3 separate regions of the Homo sapiens genome follow, and all the other regions are linked to region 3. The links come from fine-mapping of genetic effects on gene expression. A gene starts in region 3. Each other region holds a variant in brackets. All regions are shown on one strand. Distances are between the middles of the regions.

Evidence for each region. PIP is the estimated chance that this variant, and not a neighbour inherited with it, causes the effect. A credible set is the group of variants that fine-mapping cannot tell apart.
Region 1: its variant is the best candidate, but not a certain one, in a credible set for the expression of S1PR1 in whole blood (TOPMed, PIP 0.58).
Region 2: its variant is the best candidate, but not a certain one, in a credible set for the expression of S1PR1 in NK cells (Gilchrist 2021, PIP 0.54).

Annotation. Positions count from the first base shown.
Region 1 is chr1:101,276,488-101,281,716 of GRCh38, forward strand. No RefSeq gene overlaps it. Among named protein-coding and RNA genes, the nearest start is that of S1PR1, 42 kb to the left of the region's middle. The variant G/T (reference allele first, on the strand shown) is at 3,245.
Region 2 is chr1:101,266,171-101,271,399 of GRCh38, forward strand. It overlaps the pseudogene PPIAP7. Among named protein-coding and RNA genes, the nearest start is that of S1PR1, 32 kb to the left of the region's middle. The variant G/A (reference allele first, on the strand shown) is at 2,135.
Region 3 is chr1:101,234,245-101,239,473 of GRCh38, forward strand. S1PR1 (sphingosine-1-phosphate receptor 1) reads left to right here and starts at 2,775. Exons shown (of 2, transcript NM_001400.5): 1 at 2,775-2,855; 2 at 4,578-5,229. The coding sequence starts at 4,741. It overlaps S1PR1-DT (S1PR1 divergent transcript), which reads right to left and starts at 2,284. Exons shown (of 2, transcript NR_104626.1): 1 at 2,081-2,284; 2 at 629-1,637. RefSeq lists enhancers at 1,865-1,954, 4,588-4,637.

The DNA of each region.
Region 1 (5,229 bases), 42 kb after region 3:
CCACTTACATGTTTTATTTTTTTCAATAGAAGTTACACCAAGGAAGTGCCTTCCTCTCCTGCCTCCCCTTCCACCTCCTCCACCTTCTCCACCTCTGCTACCTCTGAGACAGCAAGGCCAACCCCTCATCTTCGTCTCCTCCTCAGCCTACTTATGAAGACAATGAGGGATGAAGACCTTTATGATGGTTGACTTCTACTTAATGAATAGAATAGTAAATATATTTATCTTCATTATGACTTTCTTAATAACATTTTCTTTTCTTTATTTCTTTATTGTAAGAATACATATATAATCCATATAACATACAAAATATCTTTTTCTTTTTTCTAGTGGTGGTGATATACATGGATTTTTGACTGTGCAGAGGGTCGGCGTCCCTAGATCCTGAGTTGTTCAAGGGTCAATTGTACATAATAATTTAACTTTTGCAAAACAAAGATAAAAGAATGCCACATATGTGTATGCACATAAATCTTATGTCTGCCTATTTAGAATTCTGTGGTCGGAAACATATGGCGTTCCTGACATAAATTACCTTAAGGAGGAGCAGTTGCTGATGTAGTGGAGCGGGAGAAAGAGGAAGAAAGAGAAAGAACAATGCAGAAAGGCTTCACTGAAAGAAAAGCATGCTTTTGATATTACATTTCTGTACGTCTGCAAAACAAATTTATGTTGTTATGTTTGTAAAGACATCTATTAATTATGTTTATTAATGTATTTTGTAAGCATGTTTATTACTAGATACCAAGCAGTATTCTACGTGGTTTCAAATAGCAATTAATTTAATCATTCCAACAGCCCTCTGAGGCAGGTTTGGTTAGTGTCTGTATTTCCAAGATAAGGAAACTGAGGCACAGAAGAGGTTGTCACAGTTACAGAGTTGGTAAGCAGCAAGTCAGGGATTTGAGTGCAGGCATTATCGGTCCAGAGTCTATCTTCTTAACTACTGCATTATGCCCCTTCTCTTTTTAATAAAAAGTAAACCAGCCATCTCCACTCTCCACTGCTTTACTCTATCCCGTAGCTTGCCATTGCACTTGGAAGCCAGTTCTAACTCCTCTGGTGGACTTTAAGGCCCCGTGACATCCAGCCTCTGCCAAGCTCTCTAGACACCCAGCCTCACTGACCTCTGTCTCTTCTTTGATTTGCCTGTTCTGCATCTTGTTCCCTTGCCTTTTTCTCAGGTCACCTTATAACTGGCTCTGTCACATCCTTCAGATCTCAGTGTAATGTCCCTTCCTTGAGGGGGCTTCCCTAACCACCTATCTAAGTAAGTCTCCTTACACCTCTCCTTTCTTTCTCTTTTTTTCTTTTTCTTTTGAGACGGAGTCTTGCTCTGTCACCCAGGCTGGAGTGCAGTGGCACGATCTCGGCTCACTGCAACCTCCACCTCCTGGGCTTAAGTGATCCTTGAGCCTTAGCCGCCTGAGTAGCAGGGATGACAGGCATGCAACGCCACGCCCAGCTATTTTTTTATTTTTTGTAGAGACAGGGTTTCGCTATGTTGCTTAGGCTGGTCTCAAACTCTTGAACTCAAGTGACCTGCCCACCTCAGCCTCCCAAAGTGTTGGGATTACAGGCATGAGCCACCACACCCGGCCTCCCCTATACCTATCATAACAAACTCTTCGTCTTCTTCATACTACTGAATGCAGCCTGTACTTATTTGTGTTATTTGCTTACTGTGTATCTATCTCCTCTGTGCAGTATAAGCCCCAGGGGGCAGGGTCTTTTTAAGTCTTGGCCTCCATTGTATCCCCAGCACTTGCCACAGGGCTTGGTTAATAGCGGGTACAGAAGAAATTTTTTTAAAATAAATAAATACATGAATGAAAGGCAATACTGAAAGGTGAGGAAGGGTTTGGTTCTGAAATCAGACAGACCAGAGTTTGACTCAATCCTCTAAGATTGGCAGACTTGTGAAACCTCTTGAAACATGTATTGTCATCTGTGAAAGGGAGATAATAATAGTATGTACCCCATAGAGTTGTTGCGAGGATTAAATGAGATAAATTATCTACCATGCACATCGTAACCCCTAATGCATCATAGCTGCTATTATTACAGCCATCAGTATCATCATGCTGAGGCTGCTTCACAGGCCATTGTCCAGCCCGTGGGGTGACAGAGCTTGGATCAGATCCTATCACTTTTCCAATCAGCTTAGGCTTGGCAGGTAGGATTTGGGGAATAACTTCTAGCTAAGCCTGTGTGTGGAGCAGGCACATGATTGTCATGCCCGTAATAGTGTTGAAAACCAGGAACATTTTCTAGAGAGCCACTTTCTCCTCCTCCCTTGTTTTTCCTAGCCTTCTTTCAGTTCCCTTCCCTTTCTTGGTATTGCTTTTAATACAGCCTGAATTAAGCCAGTCCTCTGCTTAGCTCCCTTTCTGCCATTGGAAAGCATCTTTGGGAGTGTAAGGGATTCTGTTCCTTCAGTTGATAGAGCATGCTTCACAGAGACAGGTATTTGAGGTTGTGTTAAGTTAGGTTAACCAGACTTTGAAGGAAACACACAGTAGCTTAATCATAGCACAGAGATGATAACCTCATGGTTTTCTCTTCTTCCTGGGTCTCAGGAAGCGACGGCTACTCCACCCTTCCCAGTGGTTGCTGGCAGAAAACATTGATGTCGATTAGTATATAGGGTATATACAGAGAGTGATGGAAAAGAAAATGCAAATAGGAGCTAAGATATTTTCACAGTGGAAAACAATTGGAAACTGGAAAATAAGAGAGGATGGCCTCAGGAGGTCTTGAATGCCTTATGTTTATTCAAGGTGAGGGGCAGAAGCTATTGGTTCTCTCGAGATTAGCCAGAGAAGACTTCCTGGAAAAGTACCGAATTATCCAGTTGGCCATGGGTGCCAACTCCTAAAGACTTCCTGCCTCCTGCTTTTTTGAACTTATTTTGTAGTTGTCTGAGCATATTGTCTTGTATATGTGATGCTGTCCTCTTTTCCAGGAATGACTTTTCTATTCTGTATTCCCTTAACTGCCTTAGGAACTCCTGTAACTTTTCTGCGACTAGCCTCAGTACCTAGCACAGTGCCTGACACATTATAGTCATTTCCTAAATGTTTGCTGAATGAATGATGGATATCCAGAAAGAAAAAAAAGTTAAATGTTGGGTGCATACAAATCTCTGGAATTAACTATCCCGAAAGATGTGGGTGTGTTGGCTCACACCTGTAATCCCAGTGCTTTAGGAAGCTGTGGTGGGAGGATTGCTTGAGGCCAG[G/T]ACTTCCAGACCAGCTTGGGCAACAGCTAGACCTTGTCTTTACAAACTATAAAACAATTAGCTGGGCTTGGTGGCATGCACCTGTAATCCCAGATACTCGGGGGGCTGAAAGAGGAAGGATTATTTGAGCCCAAGAGTTTGAGGCTGCAATGAACTATGATTGTGCTACTGCACTCTAGCCTGTGCAACAGAGAAGACTCTATCTCTTAAAAAAATTATCCCAGAAGATTATATAAGTTAACTAAGGAAATATGTCAAAAGAAAGGCTAGACATAGTCTTGGGGGATAGTGGCATCCTGGGTGACAGAGGAGAGCTTGAGTTGGCAGGGGTTTGAGGGGATAGGAAACTGGAGGTTGTGTCCTGCACAGAGAGTCTGGTAGAGGGAAAGTAAACAAGCTCTGATATCCAGAACTCCTTTTACTAGCTTAAGCTAAGTAAAGGTTAAGCTTAGGTTAAGCTGTACTCATCATTCAGTGGTGGCTGAAAGTGGCACCTGAAGAAGCTCTTGGGCTTGCCTCAGAGGGACATCTTTAAAAGGAGCACCAATTGTTATCTTTTCTGAGATGGTTTCAGTGAAGTCAAGGTTGAATGGAAGGACGTATACTGACCACTAAATCTCTTACAACTCTTTGTTTTTATCTGATGGTAGGATTTAAAATTTACATGTACTGAATATTCATATATGCAGTCAGTCTTAGATTATCCCAGGGCAGAGTGCATATATTGATTGGGTTAGTGGCCCATCACAATCATTTTTGATTTCAAGCTCTTGCTAAGATAATTACAGACTCTGTAATTAATCCCTTTGTTGAAATTATTACTGTCAGTGATTATTCTGACATGGAGTTAATGCAAGGATGCTTTTCTCTTGCAAAGCAGTGTTTCCCTTCTCCTTTCCACTGATTGGCATTTCAAGAAGAAAGAAGGCAAGCAACACCTTTATGTATTAGTCTGAAGAGACTGCTGTTTAGGAGAAGCACATGGCACAGTGGAAAGGAGACAGACTAGGTGTCTGTCATTCATTTAACAGTTATTGAGCTCAATAACTCAATAACTGTTAAATAATATTAGCAATAATAACTATTGAGTTCAATAACTCAATAAGTGTAATAAGTACAGGCTAGGTGCCTTAGGTTCAAATCCTAGCTCAGTCATTTACTAGCTATGTGACCTAGGGTGACTGACCATCCCAGTTTGCCCAGGACTGTCCTGGTTTTAGCACTGAAAGTCCTGCAGTCTGGGAACTCCCTCAATCCTGGACAAACTGGGACAGTTGATCGCCCCAGTTAGTCACTTGCACTTATCTATAAAATACGGAAATTTCTTATTTTTTGTATCGTGAGTTTGGTGTGAGGGTCAAATGAGATAATGTGAAAGAATTTTGTAAATTATAAACTGCTATATAGACATAAAATACATTCCGCTTGTCTTGTTTTCTTGTCTCAGGTACATGTAGCAAAAAGCTTGGCTATAGAACTGAATTTGACACTAGGGCTAAGGCAGGCACTGAGGGATGGGGGACCCCTGGACTCCTCAGGCTCTGGGAAAGTTTCCATCTGACTGCAAAGTTTGGGGCCTGAGGGGACAGCATATTGCATCAGAATCCAGCAGGCAAATTGTAAAGAGATCCATACAAGCTGGCAGTGGGCTTCTGGTATGTTCTCAAAGCACAGTTGTCTGCAAGTAGGCACCAGGGCAATAGCCATAGGCCTGACAGCTTAGGAATCTCTTTGGGAGGGGATTGGCAAGAGCAGCCCAGGTGTTCTAGCAGAGGGACCTGGAGTATTGGGACAATACCTATAACAGCATGAACAGGACCAAAACAGGCACCAAGGCAGAGCCCTGTTACCAGACCAAGACCCAAGGCTGAGGATGGATCCTTAGTCAAGATGACTCAAAGCTGGGCCCCAGAATGTGAGGCTGAGGATGGAGGTAGGAAGAAGTGTCTGTGAGAGGAAGATGGGGTAAGAAAAGTAGATTTTAC
Region 2 (5,229 bases), 32 kb after region 3:
ACTCTGCCTCCAGGGTTCGACTGATTCTGGTGCCTCAGCCTTTTGAGTAGCTGGGACTACAGGCATGTGTCACCATGCCCAGATTATTTTTGTATTTTTAGTAGAGATGGGGTTTCACCATGTTGGCCAGGCTGGTCTCGAACTCCTGGCCTTAAATGATCTCTGCTCTCTTCAGCCTCCTGATGTTCTGGGATTACAGGCATGAGCCACGGCAACCGGCTTTATATCCCTTTTTGATGGGCAGCCTGCATTCAATGCTGGTTGAAGCAAGAGTACAAACTCTGGTACAAAGAGTACAAGAGTTCAGGACAACTCTGAAGGGTCATGCCAGTTCCAGAGCTCCCTGGATTTGCTGAGGACTCTGTTACAACTGCATCACACTTCAACTTCTCCCTCCGCCCAATCATGCTTTTTTACTCTCTTACAGACATTGTTTCTAAGGACATTCCTGTAGTAGATACTGTGATCCATTGCCCAAATGTCCCTTCAGGAACAAGGAGTTAATAGCTATGGTGCTGGGAATCTTGGGCAAACATATTCAGAGATAAGGCCTCTTCAGGGCAGCTAACACCTAATGACTGATCCAGTAGGGGTACAAAGGCACCACTCTCTCACCTCAACTTGGGATAGCACTGAAGGATCATCTTAATTCAGAAGTCCCTGCCCCAAAAAAAGGACACATTGTCTAATTTGATTCATCTCCAGAGACACAGTGTCATCATGGTCCTCCTTCTGCCCCCGTGAGATTGGAGTTTGATGAGGCCAGGTAACAAATAAATGCCTGTGTAAATTCTAGCTACGGTGGGTCCATAGACACCCCCAGTGATCCTTTCTCAAATCTCTAAGTGCATAACTAGGATTGACATACTGGCAGTCAGAGGAACCCCACTTTGTATCATTGACCTGTGGGGAAGGCCATATCATAGTGGAGAAGGCCAAGTGGAAACCTCTTGAAACCGTCCATACACCCCTTCCCCCAGCCAAGGCAGCAAATGGAGAAAAATTGCACCCTGGAGTAGAGGAATAGCAGAGATTAATGCTACTATTAAAGATCTAAAAATGCAGGGATGGTGGTCACTACTCACTCTCATATCCTCATTTAGCAGCACCAGTCTGGATCCTGCAGAAACTGGGTGATTCTGGAGAATAACAGCAGAAAACCACAGCTCAAACAAGTGATAGCCCCAGTTGTAGCTACTGTGCTGGATGTGGTTTTATTGCTAGATAAATGAGATAAAATAGGTTAATGAGATTTCAGGTACGTGGTGTGTGGTCATTGATTTGGGAAATGGATTCTTTTCTATTCCAATTAGAAAGAAGATTAGAGATAATTTGCATTCATGTGATGTGAGTAATATTCAACTGCAGCTTTGATCCAGGGCTATGCTGACCCTCTTCCTTTTACCACAATATAATCTGAAGATATTTGGATCTTCTTGAAATTTCGCTACAAGTCATATTGATTCATTCCATCAATGACATTATGCCGACTGGATAATACTCTAGAAGACTTCATAAGACACTTGCAAGATAAACACTATGAAGATTTATTGACCTCTCACTTTGATGTAGTTTGTATGGATCTAGTAGTCTGGGGAACATTGGACTATCCCCTTCAAATTAAGAGGCACATCTTGCATCCCTTATCACAAAGAAGGAAGCTCAGTGTGTGACAGGCATCTTTCATTTGTGGGTGTATAAGATAACACACTATACACCTAGAAGTACCACTAGCTTTGAGTGAGGCCCAGAGCAGGAAAAAGCTGTCCACTAAAGCAAGGCTGTGGTGCAAGCAGTTCTGTCATTCGGGCCCATGACTGACCCCAAATTTGCTGGAAATGTCAGAGGTGGGACTTACCAAATCACAAATTAGAGCAGGCCCAGCTGCTGTTCATCATAATAGTTTTTCCGAGGTTAAGCCCAAGTATGACCAGAGGGCATGAGTATACAGTACATCACTCTCCGTAGTTGCACAAGTGTTTATTTCCCAGCTTACACCTATGGCCACATAAGGGGTCTCATACGACCAGCTGATAGAGGAGGAAAAAGCATGATCTTGGTTTGTCAATGATTGGTCTCAGTATGTGTGTGCAAGCTGACTATAAACAGTGACTGTATTATAGGTACAATCCGA[G/A]TTGGCCTTGAAAGTGGAGAGTGAAATTTCCAATGGGCAGACCTGTTGTAAGTATACTGAGTCATCCACTTTTTGTGAAAGAAGTCGCCTGAAACAAAAATATATGAAAAATCCTAGATAGTGGAAAATGGCCTAACTGTCTGTTAAGGGGGCTGGAAGGAAAAGGACTAGAAGACTGAAGACAAGGAAGTCTCAGGTAGATATATGGAGGCAGAGGAAATATGAAAGTGGGCATAAAGTGTAAAGATTTTTGTATCACACGTTAACCCTCACTTGCACACATCCACCAGCAAAGAGGCACTGAGCAACCAATTATTTAACATTATTTGGACAGTTGATGTTAGCTAGTCTTTGTCATTGGCCACCCTGCAACCAGCACAAGAAATGCTATAGTGGCAGATATGGAAGCTACGTATAGGTCAACAGCATGGACTTTTTACCAGGTTCGATATAGCTATTGCCTCTTTTGAATATTCAAACTTTCAGTGGCGTAGACCAATGTGCCTACCACTAATATGGCAATATATGGCACTGATCCTCCAGGAAGACAACCCGTAACTTGGTGGCAAGTCAGCTACTTTGGGCCCCTTCTATCCAAGTAGTTGATTTGCCACCAAATCAACTATTAAATTCTGGAACGGTCAGAATTTCATTCTCACAGAGATAAATACTGGTTCCAGGAATGCAAAATCTCAGCTAGTACCACTCTCTAGGGGGCTTACAGAATTACTGACATCTAGGCCTGGACTCTCACAAACACAGCATTTGAGCAGGGAACCCACTTCAAAGAAGGAGGCACAGGAGTGAGCCCATGAATATGTTTTTTTCTCTCATACCGCATCATCCAGAAGTAGCTGATCTCATAGACCCAGATAGTTTCAATGATGAATTCTATCAAATATTTAAGGTAGAAATAGTATAAATTTTTTTTTTTTTTTTTTTTTTTTTTAGTGGAGATGACTTCTCACTCTGTTGCCCAGGCTGGAGTGCAGTGGCACTGATCATAGCTCACTGCAGCCTCAAACTCCTGAGCTTAAGGGATCCCCCGTCTCAGCCTCCTAAGTACCTGGTACTATAGACGTGTGCTACCACACCATGCTAACTTTTTAAAAATTATTATTATTATTATTTTGGAGACAGAGTCTTGCTCTGTTGCCCAGGTTGGGATGCAGTGGTGAGATCTCGGCTCACTTCAACCCCGCCTACCGGGTTCAAGCAATTCTCATGCCTCAGCCTCCCAAGTAGTTGAGATTACACATGTGCACCACCATGCCTCACTAATTTTTTTGTGTGTATTTTTGTATTTGTAGATATGGGGTTTTGCCATGTTGGCCAGGCTGGTCTTGAACTCCTGGCCTCAAGTGATCACCTGCCTTGGCCTCCCAAAGTGCTGGGATTACAGGTGTAAGCCACCACACCCAGCCTTAAAAAATATTTTGTATAGACAGGGTCTCACTATGTTCCTCAGGCTGGTCTCAAACTCATGATCTCAAGTGATCCTCCCACCTCAGCCTCCCAAAGTGCTGGTATTATAGGTGTGAGCCACCATGCCCAGCTGAAATAATACAAATCTAACACAAACTTTTTTCTTTCTTTTGAGACAGGTTATTGCTTTGTTGCCCAGGCTGGAGTGCAGTGGCACAATCATAGCTCGCTGCACCCTCAAACTCCTGGGCTCAAGGAATCCTTCCACCTCAGCCTCTTGAGTAGCTGGGACTACAGGTGCATGCCACCATGTCTGGCTAATTTTCAAATTTTTTTGTAGGGACAGTCTGCCTGTGTTGACCAGGCTGGTCTCAAGCTCCCGGACTCAAGTGATCCTCCTGCCTCAGACTCCCTCAGACTGGGATTACAGGCATGAGCCACCATGCCCAGCCTGCAAACTTCTTAAAAAATATATGAGAAGGGAACTGCCCCAAATTTCCTTCACAAGGCCAGAATTATATTGACATCAAAGCCTGTCAAATAAATTTTAAAAACAGATAATAAAACAAAGAAATAAAAAATTACAGATGAGTATTCCTCATGAACACAGATGCAAAAATTCTGTACAAAACATTAGTACATCAAATTGAGCAATGCCTAAAACGGATAATATATTATTACCAAGTAGAGCTTATCTTAGGAATGCAAGCTTAGTTCAAGGTCTTCTTCAAACCAATCAATGAAACTCACACATCAAGGAGAAAAAGAGAAAACTATGATAGTTATATTCAATATATGCAGAAAAAGCATTTGACAAAATAAAACATCAATTCATGATTAGAAACCTTCACTAAAGGAAGAATAGAATAGAAAGAAAATGCTTTAATTTCATAAAGGGCATCTATGAGAAACTTACAGATAATGTTATGCTCTTTATTGTTATGTAGTTTTTATTTCATAGTTATAAACTTAACTCTGCAATCCAGCTAGGCATAGAAAGGGAATAAGGAAAAGAGAGAACACAAAGGGAACTGCAATGAGAGTACAAAGATTATAGGATACTGAAGCATATGGGGTGGAGGGGTGCTCTCCTGAGCTACAGAAGGATTGGTCTGGTGGTTAAGTTAAAACACAAGTCAAGCTTATTAGAGTTGCCCACAGTCAGCAATGATAATCTTCTTGTTGGTCTTGCCATTCCTGGACCCAGAGCGGTCCATGGCCTCCACAATATTCATGCCTTCTTTCACCTTGCCAAAGACCACATGCTTGCCATCCAACCACTCAGTCTTGGCAGTGCAGATGAAAAACTGAGAACCGTTTGAGTTGGGTCTAGCATTTGCTATGGACAAGATGCCAGGACCTGTATGCTTCAGAATGAAGTTCTCATCATCAAATTTCTCCCCGTAGATGAACTTGCCATCAGTGCCATTATGGCATGGGAAGTCACCACCCTGACACATAAACTCTGAAATAATTCTGTGAAAGCAGGAACCCTTATAACCAAATCCTTTCTCTACAGTGCTCAGAGCATGAAAGTTTTCGTTGTTTTTGGAAATTTGTCTGCAAACAGCTTGAAAAAGATGAGGCCCAAGGACTGGCTGTTGATGGCGATGTCAAAGAACACAGTGGAATTGACCATGGTGGGTAGTACTGGGCTCCCGGTGGTGGTG
Region 3 (5,229 bases):
CAAAGCCACTTTGAAATCAAAAATTGGAAATGGAGCAAACTTAAGGTAGGAATGTTGGGCTTGACTTCTAGGCAGCAGCAGACAGGGAGTTGTACTGGCAGTCAGGAGATAGCTTGAGAATGCAATTTTTAGGGCCTCCTTGGAGAGCAATGGGAAGAGACTTATATGGGAACTAGAGACTTGGAATTGGCCAGGACGCCATTGCTGGAAACATTTGCCTACTATCTAATTTTACCTAAGTTGATCATCTACAATTACATCTCATAGGTGTGTACTAAAGATGAATATTATTAAATAACAATCTGAAAGGTTTTTGGACTCTGTAAAACACTTTATCAATATTGAATGTTAAAAACCAGTGGTATTCACAAGAAAACAACTGATATCCCCAAGGAAATTCTTGAACCTGTTTGAGGTTTATCATGGTGGTCTGGAGTAGTGGTTAAGAGTCTGCAGCCTGTCCCACATTAAGCAAGCTGCTTAATATGTCTGGGAGTCAATTTCCTTGTTTGTAAAATTAGAATAATTATAGTGCCTAACTTGTCAGATTAAATGGATTAATATGTGTAACACTATGTGCAAATACTAAAAGTACAATGTTACATGAGATATCATAGGCAGACAATGAGAAGTTTCAGAAAACATTCATTAATATGCATATGTATACACTTTGTATGCTTACGTAGAAAATGAGTGGTTTTAAAAGGACATTCATTAGCATACTTTTATATGCATTTTGTAGACTTGTACAGTCAGAAATGCAGCAAATGTAAAACTTTAAATCTAGAAGTCTGTTTCCCTCTAGGAACATATATTTCAATTCCTTAACTATTTATTGACTGATAGCGTTTGAGCCACAAGGCAAGGCATTTGCAATATTTAGGTTTTGGAACCCAGCTCTGCCACTCACTAGCTGGGAAATCTACAAGTCACCTTAGTTGTCTGAATGACACTTCTCTCAACAATAAAATGGCCAGCAATGCTTACTTACTTCACAGAGCAGTAAGGTTAAATTAACCTAGCACATGCTTGATACAGACTAGGTGTGAAATTTCACTTTGATTCCTTTGGCTTTAAAGAATGCATAAATTAGTGTGGGTGGAGGCGGGAGAAGGGGGGGAATGCCAAGTCCCCCGTTTTGTTGTGCTGGGTAGACACAATATACCTCTTCCCCTTTAAGTGAAATAAGTCTTCAAATCCAATTAGGATCTACTCTGGAGTCTTAGAGGACCGTTATCTTGGTTTCCACATTATATGCACTGTACTGTTGTTGAAGCTGTGGGTATGTATTGGGTGCGTCGCTGTCGATGAATGCTTTAAAACAGCTGTGAATTAACTGTCACTTCTTTTTTTTTTTTTTTTGGCAAACTCACAAAATCCCAGAAGTCAGGGGTCTGTTGTTTGTTCATTCTGCCTCCTTCTGAGTCATTCAGGTACAGGGTGTGTCTGCCAATTGAAACTGCACAGCGGAGGAAGTTTTTGAGTTCACATCTGCCGGGATGGGAACGCAGTGCGACCAGGGACTGGGTGGAAACTTTTACAACAGTAATGCAAGGGCAGAAGCGTCCTGTCCTGAGCTTGTCACGCAGGCAGATCTGACCAAGTCCGCCTCTCAGCCTCACGTTCTTAAGTAGCATCTAAGCAAAAGAAAAGGGTGGGCAAAGTGCTAGTAATGAGATTTGAGGCCTCTGAGTCGACTCCCAAGCAGAATGTGAGAGAAGGGTGCCGGCTCCTGCTGGGCAGCTGCAGTTGCTCCGCAGCTCCTGGCCGAGAATCTCCCCCTTTGGAAATTCCTGAGCTGCCCAGGCGTTTTGAATCTCTCAGGACTCAGCAGCAGCCCACCCCCTCAACGACCTCTCCATTGGCCAGAATCTGGGACACACAGCCTGACTTTGTGCTCAGCTGAGGGAAACCCCTCGCCCAACACCAAAACCGGCGCTGGTTCATTTCTCTGTGCACTCTGGGAAAGCCACTGCCCCTCAGACCGCAGTTGCGAGTAGCACGAGGATCTGGGGTGGCGGGGGGAGTACAGGAACCTCCCGGTTCATTCTCCCTCCCGGGCTGCTTGTCTCCTCCGTACCTCTCGCAGCCCCTTCCCAGCCTCTCCTCCCCAGAGCGCCGCCGACACTCGCCGGGCCGCGGCTCAGGTTTTCTGCTGCTCGCGCGAAAGTGGCTCGGGGAGCTCCTGGCCACAAGCTCAGCACACCGATCCTCCTAGGGCTGCGGGGGGTGTGGGACCAGGGCGGTGCGCTACGAGACTCCGGGCCGTCCTCTGCCTCCTCAGACTTTTCGAGAGAAAAGTTTTCAAAGTCTCTCCACCTTTTTTTTTTTTCAGGGGCTCGGGAGAATCCTCTCCACAGCCAGGGATCAGCGTCTATCTGGGCGAGGGCAGTGATTTATACAGTAGAATCCAGGGGTTACCGGGCTCCGCCCCTTCTCTCTCTCTCTTTTTTTCTTTCATTTGTTGTTTGGGGAGGAGGGGTTCTTTTTTTTTTTTTTTTTTTTTTTTTTGCTTCTGCCCCAGATCTTTCCTGGACAGTGCGTCTCAGCAGTTCAGATCCGGGGGCCCCCAGCTGACAGAGGGCGTGGGGGGTTAAGGCATTAACCCCTCCCAGCCTCTTCCTGAAGAAACCACCCAGCCTTGGCGCGGCGCTGGGTGACTTCGCGTAGCAGGCAGGGAACTGGCCGCGGCGAGCGGGACTGGCCATTGGAGTGCTCCGCTGCGGAGGGAGGGGACCCCGACTCGAGTAAGTTTGCGAGAGCACTACGCAGTCAGTCGGGGGCAGCAGCAAGATGCGAAGCGAGCCGTACAGATCCCGGGCTCTCCGAACGCAACTTCGCCCTGCTTGAGCGAGGTAGGGGGCGGCGAATGGCGGGGGTCGCGGGCGCGGGGAGCCCGGTTGTGGTAGGGCTTAGGTGTCAGAAACGAATTTTTAAGTCGAACGAGGCAAACAAAAACTTAGAAAACATGCATCTCCGGGCGCTGAAAATTTGCATCTCTGGGCTACTAAGGAGCCCATCTCGATCAGATTGTTCTTGGGCACTTGTGATTTATGGAGTTCAGAAAAAAGGTTAATTCCCAACTGTGGAACCTACGGGTGTAGGGGCAGTGAAAATTGCAGTTGGTCGGAGGAATAGGAGGGAAGGCGTTAAATTTTGGAAATCCTATAGACAAAGAATATGGTGGGTGGTGTGGAGCGTGGGTAATGGCTTAAATTAGTACTGCCCAGGAGCAGGGTATAAAATTAGTTGGGGGAAAATGCGGAGCTTCTTGGCTTGAGCAGCCTCTGCTGTTCGCGGAGTTGCTGGGATTGTTCTCATCTCTATTACCTCATTTTATTGCATTGCTGCATTACCTTGAAATATTTAAGCAACTTAGAAGTAGACTTCTGCTGACCAGTGCCGTCTTAGAAAGTTTCTTTGTAACTTTCTAGTCCTAGGAGAGGAGTCAACGTGTTGGGGGACTGCAGTAAATAAAACTGCCCACGCAAATTTAGCAATGCACCAGGGAGCAGTTTAATGTGAGTTTCTGAAGAGTAGTTTTGCAATCGAAATTAGAAATGTGGTAGCATGTATTATGGCTGTCATGAGTAGTTTGATTTCTCTCTTTTGTGTATGTTTTGGCTAAACTAAACAAAGCAAAAAATATTTATGCAATCAACTAATGTACGAAACTTCTGGGATTTGCTGCAATCTGTTATGAATGGTTTTAACTGAATACCTTTAAATTTACTTGCCCTGGCTTGGGGTGGGGGGTGGGGTGGGGGGGCGCGGGGGGAGGCGGGGAGAATAAGAAGAAGAAAGAAAAGGCAGTCGCTTCACGGAGGCGCTAAGCTTTCCTGTTTACAGCAAGGCGGGGCGGGCCTGGCTGCCCACACCTCACTGCGCCCTCGGACCCTAAGCACACCTGCTCCTAGAGAGTTATTAATAGAGCCCCCAAATGGCTTACGCTTTCAAATGATTTTCCTGCAAATCTGATTTCTTGCATGGCACATGGCAATTAGGAGGTGGTGCTAGTATCTTTGAACTGGGGGGCTGGGGGTGGGCATGGGGGACAGAGGTGTGTGTCTTCGCCCTCAGACTGGCAGTTGAGTCTTTTCCGAGGAGAGACGTGGGCTGGTATTGAGCGTGCAGCTAAGCTGGTGACTGCTTCAGAGAATCTCATGGCTGGAAATCCGGGGGTGAGGGGGTGTGGGGTGGTGAGAGGGCAGGAGTGGAGTTAAAATGGGGTGTAGTTCTCTAGGTTTCCCATTCCTCCCACTCCTTGTTTTCCTTTTCATCATCTTTTTTTTTTTGTCAACCCACAGCCAACATCGTAATTCCCATTTCCCTTTGAGTGAATGTGGCCATAGAGTTTCTCCCTCTCTTTTTCTTCCCCCTCTTCCTTTTTTGAAAAAAGAAAAAAAAGGAAGAAAAAAGATAATTTGATTTTTAAAAAAAATCTCTCTCCCTGAGCTCTCCCCAAGTTTCTTTAAAACAAATCAACAACAACACAATTGGAGCAGTGCCTTAGCTAGAATGAATTATGCCAGTATGCTGTGGCTCTTTCCCTGACTCTCTCCTCTGACTTGTTTAAGGCTGCGGTTTCCGAGGCCCTCTCCAGCCAAGGAAAAGCTACACAAAAAGCCTGGATCACTCATCGAACCACCCCTGAAGCCAGTGAAGGCTCTCTCGCCTCGCCCTCTAGCGTTCGTCTGGAGTAGCGCCACCCCGGCTTCCTGGGGACACAGGGTTGGCACCATGGGGCCCACCAGCGTCCCGCTGGTCAAGGCCCACCGCAGCTCGGTCTCTGACTACGTCAACTATGATATCATCGTCCGGCATTACAACTACACGGGAAAGCTGAATATCAGCGCGGACAAGGAGAACAGCATTAAACTGACCTCGGTGGTGTTCATTCTCATCTGCTGCTTTATCATCCTGGAGAACATCTTTGTCTTGCTGACCATTTGGAAAACCAAGAAATTCCACCGACCCATGTACTATTTTATTGGCAATCTGGCCCTCTCAGACCTGTTGGCAGGAGTAGCCTACACAGCTAACCTGCTCTTGTCTGGGGCCACCACCTACAAGCTCACTCCCGCCCAGTGGTTTCTGCGGGAAGGGAGTATGTTTGTGGCCCTGTCAGCCTCCGTGTTCAGTCTCCTCGCCATCGCCATTGAGCGCTATATCACAATGCTGAAAATGAAACTCCACAACGGGAGCAATAACTTCCGCCTCTTCCTGCTA